Regions from separate parts of the Homo sapiens genome. Here all the other regions are linked to region 3. The links come from fine-mapping of genetic effects on gene expression. A gene starts in region 3. Each other region holds a variant in brackets. All regions are shown on one strand. Distances are between the middles of the regions.

The links. PIP is the estimated chance that this variant, and not a neighbour inherited with it, causes the effect. A credible set is the group of variants that fine-mapping cannot tell apart.
Region 1: its variant is the best candidate, but not a certain one, in a credible set for the expression of SELENOM in nucleus accumbens (GTEx, PIP 0.82).
Region 2: its variant is the best candidate, but not a certain one, in a credible set for the expression of SELENOM in whole blood (INTERVAL, PIP 0.87).

Annotation. Positions count from the first base shown.
Region 1 is chr22:31,131,957-31,137,138 of GRCh38, reverse strand. It overlaps INPP5J (inositol polyphosphate-5-phosphatase J), which reads right to left. Exons shown (of 13, transcript NM_001284285.2): 10 at 3,904-4,041; 11 at 3,656-3,733; 12 at 3,425-3,529; 13 at 2,442-3,226. The coding sequence ends at 2,720. PLA2G3 (phospholipase A2 group III) reads left to right here. Exons shown (of 7, transcript NM_015715.5): 5 at 99-231; 6 at 340-456; 7 at 1,203-2,332. The coding sequence ends at 1,416. Among named protein-coding and RNA genes, the nearest start is that of PLA2G3, 6.0 kb to the left of the region's middle. The variant T/C (reference allele first, on the strand shown) is at 2,168.
Region 2 is chr22:31,044,647-31,049,865 of GRCh38, reverse strand. No RefSeq gene overlaps it. Among named protein-coding and RNA genes, the nearest start is that of SMTN, 34 kb to the left of the region's middle. RefSeq lists an enhancer at 4,780-5,219. The variant G/A (reference allele first, on the strand shown) is at 2,601.
Region 3 is chr22:31,105,415-31,110,633 of GRCh38, reverse strand. SELENOM (selenoprotein M) reads left to right here and starts at 3,066. Exons shown (of 5, transcript NM_080430.4): 1 at 3,066-3,257; 2 at 4,669-4,704; 3 at 4,942-4,976. The coding sequence starts at 3,129. LOC105372995 (a long non-coding RNA gene) reads left to right here. Exons shown (of 3, transcript XR_938163.3): 2 at 2,531-2,563; 3 at 2,748-2,998. LOC124905100 (a long non-coding RNA gene) reads right to left here and starts at 2,752. Exons shown (of 2, transcript XR_007068063.1): 1 at 2,526-2,752; 2 at 182-655. RefSeq lists an enhancer at 3,610-4,382.

The DNA.
Region 1 (5,182 bases), 27 kb before region 3:
ACTGAGCACACGTGCTGGTGTTTCTCCCGGATGGCGCAGGCATTGGTGGGGCCTCCCTGGTGGATTGGGCTCCCATCAACACCACATCCACCCCTCAGGTGCCCGCTGGGTCTGCCGCAGCTTCCGCCGCCACCTGGACCAGTGTGAGCACCAGATTGGGCCCCGGGAAATCGAGTTCCAGCTGCTCAACAGCGCCCAAGAGCCCCTCTTCCACTGCAACTGCACGCGCCGGTGAGGCCCCTTTGAACCCTCGCGGGGTGGGCTGCCTGCTGCCAGGCATGGGAAGGGGCCCCTGGCTGGCAAGGCCCTGCCCCGGCCTGAGCCTGCCTCTGTTCTCAGTCTGGCACGCTTCCTGAGGCTCCACAGCCCACCCGAGGTTACCAACATGCTTTGGGAGCTGCTGGGCACAACCTGCTTCAAGCTGGCCCCTCCACTGGACTGTGTGGAAGGCAAAAAGTAAGTGATGTCAGAGCCAGGAGGGATGGGGGGTTTTCTCAAAGGGTGGGTTGCCTATACCCACTTTGAATGCTTGGGCCAAGGGGTAGGGGAAGGGATCCGGAGACCTCTGAGCTCCTATCCATAGCCTCATCCCTCTACCCCCTGCTGCCCCAGGTCCAGCTCTGCAGTTGGCCTCTATGGGTCGCATCTTGGCTTTGTCATTTGATTCCCACATGACCTTGGCAACTGGTTCACCTTTCCAAGTTTCCATGTCTTTGTCTGTAAAATGGTCGTAGGAACCAAGGAAACGGCAGGATGCACATAGGTCATGCCCCGCCTGGCACACAGCAAAATGTGTACTTAACTCACTCCTAATCCACAATCTCATTTGGTCTTGAACTTCTGGACTCGAGCGATCCTCCCACCTCGGCCTCCTAAAGTGCTGGGATTACAGGCGTGAGCCACTGTGCTCTGCTTTCATCTGGATTCCGATTCTCAAAGCCAGCTCCTTCTTAACTTTCCCATTTCATAGATGAGGCTGAGGCTTCTGGCTCAGGTTTCCACAGCCAGCTAGTGGCAGAACCCAGGCCTCCAGGTACCAGCCCGGTTTATTATACCCTTTCTCCGTGAAACCCACCCCTCTCTGCCTTGCTGGTGACTGTGGCCCCAGCCCCCTCTCTCTCTGGGCCTCAGCCCACTGTCTGCAGAGTAAGGTGGGATCCTTGTCAGCCCTGATCATCTGCCCCACTCTTCTCTCCTTACAGCTGTTCCAGAGACCCTAGGGCCATCAGGGTGTCAGCCCGGCACTTGCGGAGGCTTCAGCAGAGGCGACACCAGCTCCAGGATAAAGGCACAGATGAGAGGCAGCCATGGCCTTCAGAGCCCCTGAGAGGCCCCATGTCATTCTACAACCAGTGCCTGCAGCTAACCCAGGCAGCCAGGAGACCCGACAGGCAGCAGAAGTCCTGGAGCCAGTGACCTCAGTTTCAGCTTTCCTGGGCACCAGCCTGGACCTTGCCCATGGCTATGCCAAGCCTTGGGAATCTCAGCCTCCCCTCCGTAGGTTAGACTGAAGCATGGCAGAGGCTGTTGTGGACAATCAAGAGGATGAATGGGGGGATCTCAAGGCCCAAATGCTGGACCACATCTCCTGCTGTTCTGGGTAACCTTGAGCTATGTATGACACAACTCTTCTATGCCTGGATGTGGTGTTCAGGAAGCTCATTCTGATGCCCTGGGCTTTGGCCTTGCCAGGGAACTTCACATACAGATGAGAATGGGGAAAGGGTAACTTATTGCAGCAGCCCCAGGCAGTACCAGGAGGAGGTACATGTATGTCCGTGTTGCAAAAATAATACATGCCTCAAAAACCTGCCTAGGGGAGCCCTAGTGCCTGGGTGCTGTGGCCTGAGGTAGCAGGTGGGAAGTTAGGGATGTCACAGAAATGTCTGTGTCTGAATCCAGGATTGGGGTGGGTGTTGGAGAGGGCTTTCAGCTCCCCTCCTCCCAGGGGGGCCTCTTTTTTTAACGGCTGCCGTGCCCTTCCTGGCCCAGCCCTAAACCTAAATTCAAATCTCCTCCATGCCTTTGCGCAAAGGACCTCCCTCTTGCACTCTAAGCCTTAGTTTCCTCCTCTAAAAAAAGGGGGTCTCTAAACAGGAGCTACCTCATAGGGTTGTTGAGGATTAAGTGAACCAATACATATACAGTGCTTAGCACTTAATAAGTA[T/C]TCCCCCCTGCGACACCTAGCTGAACTATGGTTTGGTGTCTGATCTTGAGAGGTTGATGTAACCTTTTAAAGGCCTCAGTTCGCTCACCTGTGAAATGGGTCTAAGAATAGCACTGATCTCACAGGGTTGTGATGCAGATTAAAGGAGATGGCATGTGTAATGTATACAGCTGGTGCCTGGTAAATGTCGGTTCTGTCATTCCCTCACCTCTTCAGTCCCTGCCTCTGACTACCACCATCCCAAGACTACTAACAAGTAGGAAAGAGCCGAGAGTGAGGCTGGAGAATTTAATTCCTAATGGATGACCTCCAGGATTGGGACATCTGCCAGAGCTCTCCCATCATCCCAGATGGGGGCCTGGGTGGGGCTTTGCTGATTGTCACAGTTGAGGTGCCAGGACTGAGTTTTGGGGGACCCCAGTTGTCCACCCCTGGCCAGGACAGAGAGGCAGGTGCAGATACAGCTGGAGGAGCAGCAGGAGAGAGGCAGGTGGGCTTGCAAAAGATTGAGGCAGAATGGTGGTCACCTTGGCCCATCTGCCTACCCCACCCTCAGGGCCCCAGGCCCCCTTCCTCCAGCCCCCGATGGCCCTGGGGACTAGGAGACAGGCTGTTGGGCGCCAGGGCCTCCCGATCAGGTCCCCAGGAGCCACCACCACCAGGGTCTACAGTCTCTAGGCGCAAGGCGGGCAACAGGCCCAGGCTTCGAGGCACAGCTGGTGGGAAGGCCCAGGGGCCAGGCAACCCAGAGGGCCCCTCTTCACTACTGCCCCGGCTGCTGCCATTACTGCTCCTGTCAGGAGCCACTCGGGACAGGCGGCGGCTCTGGGGTGAGGGGCTACGGCTGGCACCACGGCGTTCACGGGATGAGGGCCGTAGGGCAAGCCCAGGGAACCTGGCCAGTCCCGGGCTGCGGCTGCGGTGTCGCTTGGACTTGCCAGGACTGGGGCTGCGGGACTTGGGTGCAAGGAGCTCCAGTGTGCTGTCATCCTCTCCCTCTGAGCTGGTGCCTGAGCTGTCTGTGCTGCTGCTGGCCAACTCCGAGGAAGGCAGCGAGATCTGGGGGAAATGCTGGTCACTGGGGCGCCCTGCTCCCCAACCCAGCCACTGAGGCCTGACCTCCCGAGGTCTGCCTCTCTCGTTGGCAGATCTTGGGAGGTCAGGTTATTTGTCTGAACTCAAGGAGCAGAATGTAGAGGCTGTGGCATTTGACAAAAGTCTTTAGGCACCCCCAGCCCAGCAGTCTGGCCTACTTACCTGGAAGGGTTCAGTGATGCCGATGAGGATGCTGTGGTTGTGACTATAGTAGCCCAGGATGAAGTCTCCATGGCCCTTGGGCAGTGATTCCTCACTGAATGTTACCTGGTAGGCCCAGGGGTATAAGCCTAAGTTGGGGGTCAGGGAGGCCACCTGAGAGCCCCCAAGGTGAGTTCTGAGGTCCCAAAGGCAACAAGGACTTGCCCTGACTCTCCCACTCCTTTTAAGTACCTGGTAGGTATTCCCATCCACATCTTCATGTTTGGCCCAGACATAAGCCACATAGTCCTTGCAATGGCGGAAACCCACCTGGGGGATCAGTGTTGTGGAATCAGTGTTGTGACCCTATAATGTCTGATCCCAGCAGTCTCCCAGTGTGGCATCAAGATCTGGACAAGCCAGTGACCCCACCATGCTGTTCAGCTGCTCCTCCAGGCCCCTTTCTTCCCTGAGTCGCTGACCACCACTGCCCCTCTCACCCGGTATAAGCCGATCCAGTCCCAGGAGCTGCGGGCGAACACTGTTTCCATGCGGTACCTCACCACCGCCTGCTCGGGCCGCACCCACTCATCTGCCACCTCCAGCCGCACCAGTGGCATGTCGTCCCTGAAGGCAAACTGTCCAGGCAAGGCAGGGGCAGGGGGCCACATCAGGGGAGACCCTCTAGTATCCCACACACTTAAGGCTCTTGGGTCTTAGCACAAATTGCCTGAGACAAAGGGCCACTTTACAGACTGGGAAACTGAGGCAGAACAGGTCTAGTATAAATACCAAGCCCTGTGCTGCCTCCCAGCCCAGGGTTCCTTCTGCCCACAGCCTCCTTAGGGAGTGAGTGAGAACATAGCTTTGAAGCTAGCAAATCCTGGATTTGGCTCTGGTTCTGCCGTTGACAGGCTGGGTGAGTTCCTCAGCCTCTCTGAATGCCAGGGCCCTCATCTGTAAACTCAGAGACTCTTTTTTTTTTTTTTCTTTTTCTGAGATGGAGTCTCGCTCTGTCACCCAGGCTGGAGTGCAGTGGTGCAATCTCGGCTCACTGCAACCTCCACCTCCCGGGTTCAAGTGATTCTCCTGTCTCAGCCTCCCCAGTAGCTGAGACCACAGGTACCGCCATCACGCCTGGCTAATTTTTGTATTTTTAGTAGAGGCAGCGTTTCACCATGTTGGCCAGGCTGTTCTTGAACTCCTGACCTCAAATGATCCACCCACCTCAGCCTCCCAAAGTGCTGGGATTATAGGCATGAGCCACCGTGCCCGGCCAAACTCAGAGACTCTTATTTTACTCTTGGAGTTGTTCAGCAGATTCAGTGAGACACCATTTGCAAAGCATCCCATAAATTTCCCAGTATACCAGTAAGTGCTCAATAAATGATTTGTCTCTATGCTAGCAAGGAAGACCAATAAAATCCTATGATGCACTGGGTATTTGGGGTAAGCTGAATATTCCTGAGCAGGCAAGAAGAGCTCTGCGTGGGAGGATGGAGACCTCAGTCCACTTCCAGGCTCTACTGCTAACTCGCTATGTTACCCCAGGGCAGGCTCTAACCATCCCAAGGTTCAGTTTCTCCAACTGAGTCTAAGTACTAAGCGGTTACTAACTATTACCTTGTCATCAGTCCATGAAGGAAAGTTATAACCACGAGTATCCTTTCCCCAAGGTCAACCCAGACCCACCAGGGGCGCCACCTGAATGGGTGGAGCTGCTGAGGTGGCAGGCTGCCAGGATATTGACCCCACCTCTGTCCCTCAGGGAAGGACTGA
Region 2 (5,219 bases), 61 kb after region 3:
TGTGTTTATAAACAGTAATAAAAAGAATGATTGGCAAGGCACAGTGGCTCTCACCTGTGACCTCAGTATTTTGGAAGGCCAAGGTGGGCTGATCGCTTGAGCCCAGGAGTTTGAGACCAGTGTGGGCAACACAGTGAGACCCCATCTCTACAAAAAATTAGCCAGGTATGGTGGCACACGCCTGTAGTCCCAGGTACTTGAAAGGCCGAGATGGGAGGATTGCTTTAGCCCAGGAAGTTGAGGCTTCAGTGAGCCGAGATCACACCACTGCACTCCAGCCTGGACAACAGAGCGAGACCCTGTCTCAAAAAAAAAAAAAAAAAAAAAAGAACGATTGCATGTGCATGAAGCACAAGACAGGAGGTAGGGGAGAAGAGTCCACATCACCGTCCCTTGTCCCTGCCCTTGTGGAGCTGCCTTTGTTTGGGTCCTCCCAGAAGCAGGTCTTAAGAGAAGTATTTAAGTTCAAGTAATCTGTCTGGGAGGTGATCCCAGGGAATCCCCTGCAGGGGAGTGGGGAGGTGAGATGGGGAAAGGAAAGCAGCCAATAAATTCAATAAATGAATTGAAAGCACACTTCGATAGGCAACTGGAGTTCAACCCCACTAGGGAAAGCTCAGAGACAGTCATCCCAACCAAGGAGCAAGAGGCAGCTGGAGTATCTAGCCACCAACTTCTCATTCTTCACTGGTTGAGGGATGCTTCTGGAACTCAGCCTTCCCGCTTGCCAGAGGACAGGCCCAAGTGTGCTCCTGAGGTCAGAACAACACAGTCAAGCAGTTACATTCACAGTAAGAAGCCTTTGATGGGTAGAGGTATCATCAGGGGCCTCTGGGCGGTATCTGCTCCAGAGGCTGACCACTAATGAGTTTTCCATCCACAGGAAAAGGCAGAAGGAGGCCCAGGAGACATGCCTTCCCCTCCCTGGGTGGGGTTATGGAGGCCGTGTGGAGTGCATAGTGGGCCTTTTGCCTGTTCAGGCCCCCATCACCCCTTTCTTCTCATTTTGAGGAATCACCTTACCCCACTGTGGTCCACATCGTCCTCTTCAACACTGTACTAGACCACATTTCCCAGCCTCCCTTGCTGTTAGGGGAGCCATGTGACTGATTCCAGCCAATGAAATGTGAGCAGAAGGGACATGTGCTGTTTTCAGACTTGGTCCATAAATACCAACCACTCACTTCCTTTCGCTTTTTCTCTCTTTTTAACTTTTTTGGAGACAGGGTCCCACTCTGTTACCCAGGCTGGAGTGCAGTGGCGTGATCATGGCTCACTGCAGCCTTCACCTCCTGGGCTCAAGTGATCATCCCAGGTTCAAGCAATCCTCCAGCCTCAGCCTCTTGAGTAGCTAGGACAACAGGTATACACCACCACACCTGGCTAATTTTTTTATTCTTTATTTTTTTTGTAGAGACAAGGTCCCACTATGTTTCTTAGGCTGGTCTCGAACTCCTGTGCTCCAGCAATCCTCCTGCCTTGGCCTTCCAAATAGCTGTGATTATAAGTGTGAGCCACTGTGCCTGTCTCGCTTTTTGGAATGTCTTCAATGGTGCTTTGGAGGAAGAAAACATCATGTGAATGACTACACAAATCACTATTGTCAGTTGGGAGTTAGCTCTGAGAGGAAAAGTTTAGGGTGTCTTGAGCACTTTGACTTGAGATCCAGCAGAGGAAGTCATGGGCAAAGGCCCTGAAGCAGGAAGGAGGAGTCTGAAGTGGGCCATGGTGACTGGAGGTTATGAACAAAGCTGAATGGCCTGAGAGGAAGGCACATGATCTTGATGTAAAACTCATAGGTGTGTGTATTAGTCTGTTTTCACGCTGCTGATAAAGACATACCAAGACTGGGAATAAAAAGAGGTTTAATTGGACTTACAGTTCCACATGGCTGGGGAGGCCTCACAATCATGGCGGAAGGCAAAAGGCACTTCATACATGGTGGCGGCAAGAGGGATGAGGAAGAAGCAAAAGCAGAAACCCCTGATAAACCCATCAGATCTCATGAGACTTATTCACTATCACGAGAATAGCATGGGAAAGACCGGCCCCCATGATTCAATTACCTCCCCCTGGGTCCCTCCCACAACACATGGGAATTCTGGGAGATACAATTCAAGTTGAGATTTGGGCGGGGACACAGCCAAACCATATCAGTGTGTGAGGAGTTAGATGGATATGGGCTGGACACTGCCCTGGCACCCTTCTTCCTCTTTCTGGGGACAGAGAGCCAGTTTGAGAAACCAGATTATAACCAGGAGGGGCTGAGCCTAGAAATTCAACAGAATTTGGGCATACATGTGGCTTGCAGAGACATGGAATTCAGTGGTTCCCATGCCTGGAGCCCCCTGCTCTGGTCTATAGTGGCAGAAGGGCTTTTCTGTCTTCCAGACACAGCTCAGTCTCACCTCATTCTCAGGTCATGTGGCCTGAATTTGATGGGTTTTCAAATCATGTGCCCCGACCATCTTGTGTATGGGCTGGGTACCTCTCATCCTACACAAATGACTTTCCAGGTCAGGTGCTGTGGCTCACACCTGTAATCCCAGCACTTTGGGAGGCCGAGACGGGGAGATCACCTAAACTGGGAGTTCAGGATC[G/A]GCCTGGCCAACATGGCGAAACCCTGTCTCTACTAAAAGTACAAAAATTTAGCTGGGCATGGTAGTGCAAACCTGTAATTCCAGCTACTTGGGAGGCTAAGGCTATGAGAATCGCATGAAACGGGAGGCAGAGGGGGTTCAAGTGATCACACAGCGAGCCGAGATCGTGCAACTGTACTCCAGCTTGGGCGACAGAGGGAGACTCTGTCTCAAAACAAACAAACAAACAAACAAACAAAACAAATGACTTTCCAACATCAGTGCAATAGGCTCTTCTTGAGGACTAGCCTGGGAGCCTTGCTCCTTGGTGTTGTGAAACCTCAAGTAACTGATTTAATATTGAACTGCTGGGCCAGAGCTGCAAGCCTGACCTCAGGGGCTGCCTTTCTCCTGCCCCACCCCCTCCCCTGGAGCAGTGTCCTCTGGGGAAATGCAGCTGACCCAGCTGCATCCGTGGGAAGGCCTGGCCCCCACACTTCACCTTCTCAGCCCTGCCTCTCGGCCACAGGAAATGACCCTCTTAGCAGCCACGAGCTGTGATCCAGAGGACAATGACAGAGGGACGGAAGCCCTGTTTGTCCCAGCTAACTTGTTCCCTTGGGTGGATGCCAGCTGCTGAAACAAAAAACTGAAGATTCAGTGGAAAACATATTTTTTACAAAACAAACAAACAACCCTGTGGGCTTTAGCCAACTTCTGAGGCTCTGGGGCCGGGGGAGGGGGGGTTGTTTTCTTTACTTGCTTCTGTGTGTGTGTTTAAAACACAGATAAAGCTCAGAGAATCAAATAGCCTAAAGCTTGGAAGAAGGCCAGTGATCCCACCCTAGCAGCAGAGCCCCCCTGTGGTGTCTTTCTTCATGTGGCTGGGCCCCACTTCTCCACACCACTGTTCATCATGTCACTTGGCTCCGGCCACTGCCCCCACCCCACCTCCATTCACCACCCAGAAGTCAGAAAGCTCTGCTCAAACCCACATCAAGTCACCATTCTAGGGCTCTGCAGGCTGCCTGTCTCAGTCTTCAAGTCTCCAGCTCAAATGCCACCTCCTCCAAGGGGCTTCCCTGACCATTCCATATGAAATAGCACCTCTCAGTCTCTCTCCCTCCCATAGCACTTGTAACTCTTACTATATCTGGAATGATCTGCTTTGTTTCCACGTGCCAGGCACGTAGTAGCTACTCAATAAATGTTGGTTGACTGGCAATGTTTCTCAGTGGTTGTTGCATTCAGATGAAAACTGGCTTAGAAAATCCATATTCCATTGTATTTCAACAAACATTATTGGCCACAAACAGTGCTAGGGATCAGAGGCAAATTAGTTGGGATTCGTTCATTCACTCACTCACTCATTCATTCATGAGAAGGGTAGACCCCATGGTAAATGGGGATTCAGCCGGGGGTGCAGAGAACCAGGAAAGCTTTAGGTGGGAGGAGATTGTTGGTGGGTTTCCCCCCATTAAAGTAGGGTTCAGAGGTGTGAGCAAGAAAGTGTTTGGAAAAACAAGAGAACCTTGGGGTGTGGAATTTAATTTATTCCCACTTAGAACCCCCAGGGAGGGCAGAGACCCGATTTTATCTGGGGCTGCAGAGAGGGCACTCTCCATGTGCTTGTTGAAGGAACTGAGGGATGAGGGATGGTCAGGTAGTGTATGAAGTTTATGGCTCTGTTTAAGAGGTTGCTGTGACGTCCCGAATGCCAGGCTATGAAGCCTGGATTTCCATCTATAGGGAACAGAGTCTAATCAAAATAATGATTTTGGTGCTGGGTGTGGTGACTCATGCCTGTAATCCTAACATTTTGGGAGGCTGAGGCGGGAGGATCGCTTGAGCTCAGGAGTTCAAGATCAGCCTGGAGAACATAGTGAGATGGAGTCGCTAATTAAAAAAAAAAAAAATTAGCCAGGCATGGTGGTGCGTGCCTGTAGTCCTAACTACTGGGGAGACTGAGGCAGGATGACCACTTGAGCCTGGGAGGTTGAGGCTGTAAAGAGGTGTGATTGAGCCACTGCACTCCAGCCTGGGTGACAAAGCGAGACCCTGTTTCAAAAAAAAAAACCGGCTGCCACGCACGGTGGCTTACACCTGTAATCTTAGTACTTTGGGAGGTCGAGGCAGGTGGATCACCTGAGTTCAGGAGTTCAAGACCAGCCTGGGCAACACAGTGAAACCCTGTCTCTACTAAAAATACAAAAATTGGCTGGGCGTGGTGGTGTGTCCCTGTAGTCCCAGCTACTTGGGAGGCTGAGGTAGGAGAATCACTTGAACCTGGGAGGTGGAGGTTGCAGTGAGCCGAGATTGTGCCCCTCACTCCAGCCTGGGGGACAGAGCAAGACTCCGTCTCAAAAATAATAATAATTATAAAATAATAATGATTTGCAAAGCCTGTTTGAAGTGCCTGAATGTCACTGATTCCTGAACTCCAGTTCTCTAGCTACATCAGAGTATCCAAACCCCATCCTAGAAGAGTCTGATTCACCGTAAGTTGGAGTCGGGGCCTGGCCATCTGCCATTTTCACACACTTGCCAGATGTCGTTGCTATTCACTAGGTTTGGTGACCACTGAGGCTCAGAGAGGTGAAGGCACTTGCCCAAAGTCTGTAGGTGGTGGGGGAGGGGGCG
Region 3 (5,219 bases):
GCTCTAAGAAAAATAGAAATAGAAAACTTTCTTTTACAAAAGGCACCAGTAACAAACCTACAGCAAACATGATCGTTTAAAGATGATATCTGGAAAAAGACAATTATCAGTTCCAGTCAACATTGTACCAGAGGCCCCAGACCGTAAAATTAAGACAGTGCAACGAAACAAAACCAAGGTATAAGGACCAGAAAGGAAGAAAACCACTTTTATTTCCAGATGATATAATATGCATATGTAGAAAATAAAAAAAAATATCCAGTTAAACTATTAGAGTAAGAAAATTCAGTAAGGTCACTGGCTGCAAGGTTAATATACAAAAATCAATTGTCTTCCTATATGCTACTACCAAGCAACTTGAAAATGAATATGTAAAAACAATAGAGTTTGTAATGCTATAAAAAATTAAATACCTAGGAGTAAATCTAATGAAAGATATGCAAGATATTTATTCTAAAAACCACAAAATATTATTGAAGGAAATTAAAGAAGACCTATAGAAATGGAGGGACTTACTATGTTCGTGGAAGAAAAGTCACAATAATGTAAAGCTGTAGAGTCTCCCCACATTGATTTCCCCAGTGGGAATCTGAAATCCTGATAGAAATTTGGAAGGTTTTTCTGTGGAGGTTGACGAGCTGGCCCTAAATTGTACCTGGAAGTGTGAAAGGCCAAGTATAGTCAAGACAACCTTCAAGAAGAACAAAGCTAGACTGCGATGGCTTACTGAGGCTGTGGGATCACACATGGCCCTCACCACAGGAAAATGTAGGCCACAGGCCAGGCATGGTCGCTCATGCCTGTAATCCCAGTACTTTGGGAGGCCAAGGCAGGAGGATCACTTGAGCCCAGGAGTTTGCGACCAGCTTGGTCAACATGGTGAAACCTCGTCTCTACTAAAAAGACAAAAAATTAGCCGGGTGTGGTGGCCGACGCCTGTAATCCCAGCTACTTAGGAGGCTGAGGCAAGAGAATCGCTTGAACCTGGGAGGCAGAGGTTGCAGTGAGTCCGGATCATGCCACTGGACATGAGAGTGTCCAGCCTGGACAATGAGAGTGAAACTCCGTCTCAAAAAAAAAAAAAAAAAATCAGCTGGGCATGATGGTGCATGCCTGTAGTCCCAGCTACTCAGGAGGCTGAGGTGGGAGGATTGCTTGAGCCTGGGAGGTTCAGGCTGTGATTGAGCCACTGCACTCCAGCCTGGGCAACAGAGCAAGACTCTGTCTCAAAAAAAAAAAAAAAATAGCCAGCCCAGCAGCTCACACCTGTAATCCCAGGACTTTGGGAGGCCAAGGCGGGTGGATGACTTGAGGTTAGGAGTTCGAGACCAGCCTGGCCAAGATGATGAAACCCCCATATTTACTAAAAATACAAAATTAGCTGGGCGTGGTGGTGGGCACCTGTAATCCCAGCTACTTGGGAGGCTGAGGCAGAAGAATCGCTTGAACCTGGGAGGTGGAGGTTGCAGTGAGCTGAGATCGTGCCACTGCACTCCAGCCTGGCTGACAGAGCAAGACTCTGTCTCAAAAAAACAAACAAACAAAAAAACAAAAAAAAATGGGCCAGGCGCAGTGGCTCACACCTGTTATCCCAGCACTTTGGGAGGCTGAGACGGGCGGATCATGAGATCAGGAGATCAAGAACATCCTGGCTAACACAGTGAAACCCCATCTCTACTAAAAATACAAAAAAATTAGCTGGGCGTGGTGGCGCGTGCCTGTAGTCCCAGCTACTCGGGAGGCTGAGGCAGGAGAATTGCTTGAACCCGGGAGGCGGAGGTTGCAGTGAGCCGAGATCAGGCCACTGAACTCCAGCCTGGGCAACAGAGCGAGACTCCGTCTCAAAAAAAAAAAGAAAGAAAGAAAGAACAAAGCTAGAGGACCAACACACAACCAGATGTCAAGTCTGACTATAAAGCTATAGTTAATAAGACAGCGTAGTTAGACAAACCCACTGAAGGACTAGAATAGGGTATGATATTCAGAAGTAGACTCCCATATATTTATATGGTTACCTATTTATTTATTTATTTATTTTTGAGACAGTCTCTGTCGCCCAGGCTGGAGTGCAGTGGTAGGATGTCGGCTCATTGCAAACTCTGCCTCCCAGGTTGAAGTGATTCTCCTGCCTCAGCCTCCCAAGTAGCTAGGATTACAGGCGCCCACACCACGCCCAGCTAATTTTTGTATTTTTAGTAGCGATGGGGTTTCACCATGTTGGCCAGGCTGGCCTCGAACTTCTGACCTCAAGTGATCTACCCACCTCGGCCTCCCAAAGTGCTGGGATTACAGGTGTGAGCCACCACGCCCGGCCGTGGTTGCCTATTTATATATAACAGAGGTAACGCGGCAGAGTAGCAATGAAAAAGACAAGATTTTTAATTGAATTGGATAGCCACATTAAAAAAAAAAGTAAATCCTGACTCCATAAATTTAACCCAGCTGATTTAAGACCCTGTTGTGGCCTATCAGCTGTAACCCTCCTTGCATTTTCCCACCTTTGAATAGCAAATTCCTTTCCTCACCCCAGGTCAGAAAGTCTGCTCAGCAGTAGCTGTGGATGGTAAGAAGACACGCTGGTAGGTCTCAGTGGCTCCCAGAAGCCGCACCCCCTCCACCGAACCTCACTCCTCATCTCCCACGCTCCAAAGCGAGGAGTCCTCAGAAAGCCAGTTTCCCTTATTTATTCTTCTTTCTTTCTTTCCTTTTTTTTTCTTGGATGTCCTACCAGTTTCCCTATCTTAAAGTCGCAGGTTCGGCTCAGAAACTCCAGTGTCCCTCAGCGTCTCGCCGGCACCCTCTGCCGGCGTGAGGTGGCGCTGCCTGGCCGCATCCTGGGGGAGCGTCCACATCCTCGGTCGACAAAAGGAGCGTCGACACTCTCGGACCTGGGAAAGTGACGGCCCAAACGCCAGGGAGGAGCCAGGACCTCGCCCTGAGCTAGCGGGAGGTAACGGCGGGGAGTCCTGGGGCGGAGACCGAGCGCTGGGGGCGTGGTCTCCAGCGGGACTGGGCCTCTAGCGGGAGTGGGGGCGGGGGCGGGGGCGGGGCCAGCCTGGGGGCCCAGACGTGGCGCAGCGACTCGGAGGTTCGCCTCCAGCTTGCGCATCATCTGCGGCCGGGTCCCGATGAGCCTCCTGTTGCCTCCGCTGGCGCTGCTGCTGCTTCTCGCGGCGCTTGTGGCCCCAGCCACAGCCGCCACTGCCTACCGGCCGGACTGGAACCGTCTGAGCGGCCTAACCCGCGCCCGGGTAGAGGTGAGTACGCCGGCCTCCAGCCCCGGCACTATCGTTCCCCAACCCTGCGGCCCCATGGGAGCACCGTCCGTCCCGGCCCCAAGACCACCTCGAACCGCGAGTCTCCCTGCTTTCCCCCTGGCGCCGGGACCATCCCTCCTGTTCCCTAGCCCCAGATGGCCCCAGCATCCACCGTGGAAGCCTGAGACACCGACTTTGGGGCCTGGAACTCCGAACCCTTCCCCAGCTCCCCCTACCCGGTCCGACAGCGGACACCCAGACACACTGACGCAGTCTCCTAACTCTTCTCGTGGCCTATGACTCCCAATCCTGTCCCAACTTCCCATCCCCCATCACTTCATGTTTTCCTGGAATTCCCCCCCGACCCGGTTCCAGGGCTGGAGGCTCCAGAAAGTCTCTTTTCCTTCTCCTGGGGGGAAAGAAGACTTTCTGGGTGCCTCCTCCCATATGCAGGATCCGGGGAAGGGGGCCAACTCGGAGGGGCAACCGAGTTGGGAACTTGGTTGCCAACATTTACTCTGCAGCAGCCTCCCATCCTCCCCCAACCAGGAAATTCCCGTTCGGAGTCCCTGTCTTGCTATGTGACTTTGACCATCACAGCCCGCCTCTGAGCTTTTTGTCAGCTCTGTCTGACAAAAGGGTGTAGAATGGTTGGGTGCCGGTGGTGCACGCCTGTAATCCCAGCACTTTGGGAGGCCAAGGCAGGAGGATTGCTTGAGCCCAGGAGTTCAAGACCAGCTTGGGGGACATAGTGAGACCCTGTCTCTAAGAAAAGGGCTGAGGGTAGGATGGAGGAGGGCTGGAGTGGGTGGTCCTGGGGTCTAGACTCCTGCTGGATGGTGGCATCTCCTCAGGGAAGGCAGGGAGGAGCCCTCCCATCCTCCCATGTCAGGGAAGCAACCACATGGTCTGTGGGGCTGGGCCGCAGGTGGCAGGCAGGGTGAGGTCTGCCTGTGTAGAGTAGGGACCAGATGGTAGGTGTCTCCAATGGGGGCCCCCAGGGCCATTCTGAGGTGTTTCCTTCTGCTCTGCCTCCACTGTGAGATTTCAGGGATCAAAGGCCAAGCCCAGGTCTCTACTGCTTAAGAGGAGCAGGGTGATCATTTCCCCTGGGCATTGGGAGTCAGTCCACAGCCAGTAGGATGTACAGGCCCCAAGGCTGGCAGGCACACTGTGGGTCTCTGGCCTTGCTCTTTTCCCCTGGTGTCTCTAGGCCTGAGTCTCCCCACCTGTATACACAGTTCCCCCTTCTGCCCACAAGGGTCCAGCATTTCCTTCAGACCTTGGGAACTGCTGATCCGGGGATAACTCACAGCCCGACCCAACTCAGGGATAAGGAAGTATGGCTTTGGGGATGTGACTGGAATAAACGTGAAGGACTCCTGACCTATCCCATTTTATCCCCCTCCAGACCTGCGGGGGATGACAGCTGAACCGCCTAAAGGAGGTGAGTTTGAAGGAAGAGGTCCCTAGCTCTGTTCCCCCTGAGCCTCTTGGGGAGTGGGCAACATGGTCCCAATGACTGGGGCGGGGAGGGGGGAAGGATCCCTAGGCTGAGAGTCTAGCCTAGGCTGAGAGTCTAGCCTGCACCTGACTTGCTTTATGACCTCACTGGGCTTCAGTGTCTCGTCTGTACCTCGAGTAGACTGAGGTCATGGTCTCTGATGCTCTGGTTCCTCCCCAGGTGAAGGCTTTCGTCACGCAGGACATTCCATTCTAGTATCCTTCTGTTCTGGGGGAGGGGAAATGGGATGGGCACCTGGGAGAATCTCCACGTAACTTCAGAAAGGGGTGGCAGATGGTTTTCAACTGACAAGTTGAATTGATTGGTAGTGGCTCCCAGAGGATTCTGAGGTGGTCTCCATGTTGGGTGGGCAAGAGAGATTGACTAGTGATGACTGCCACAGAATGGAGAGGAGGGCCCTTTACTTCTTTGAACCCTAATTTTCTCACGTATAAGCG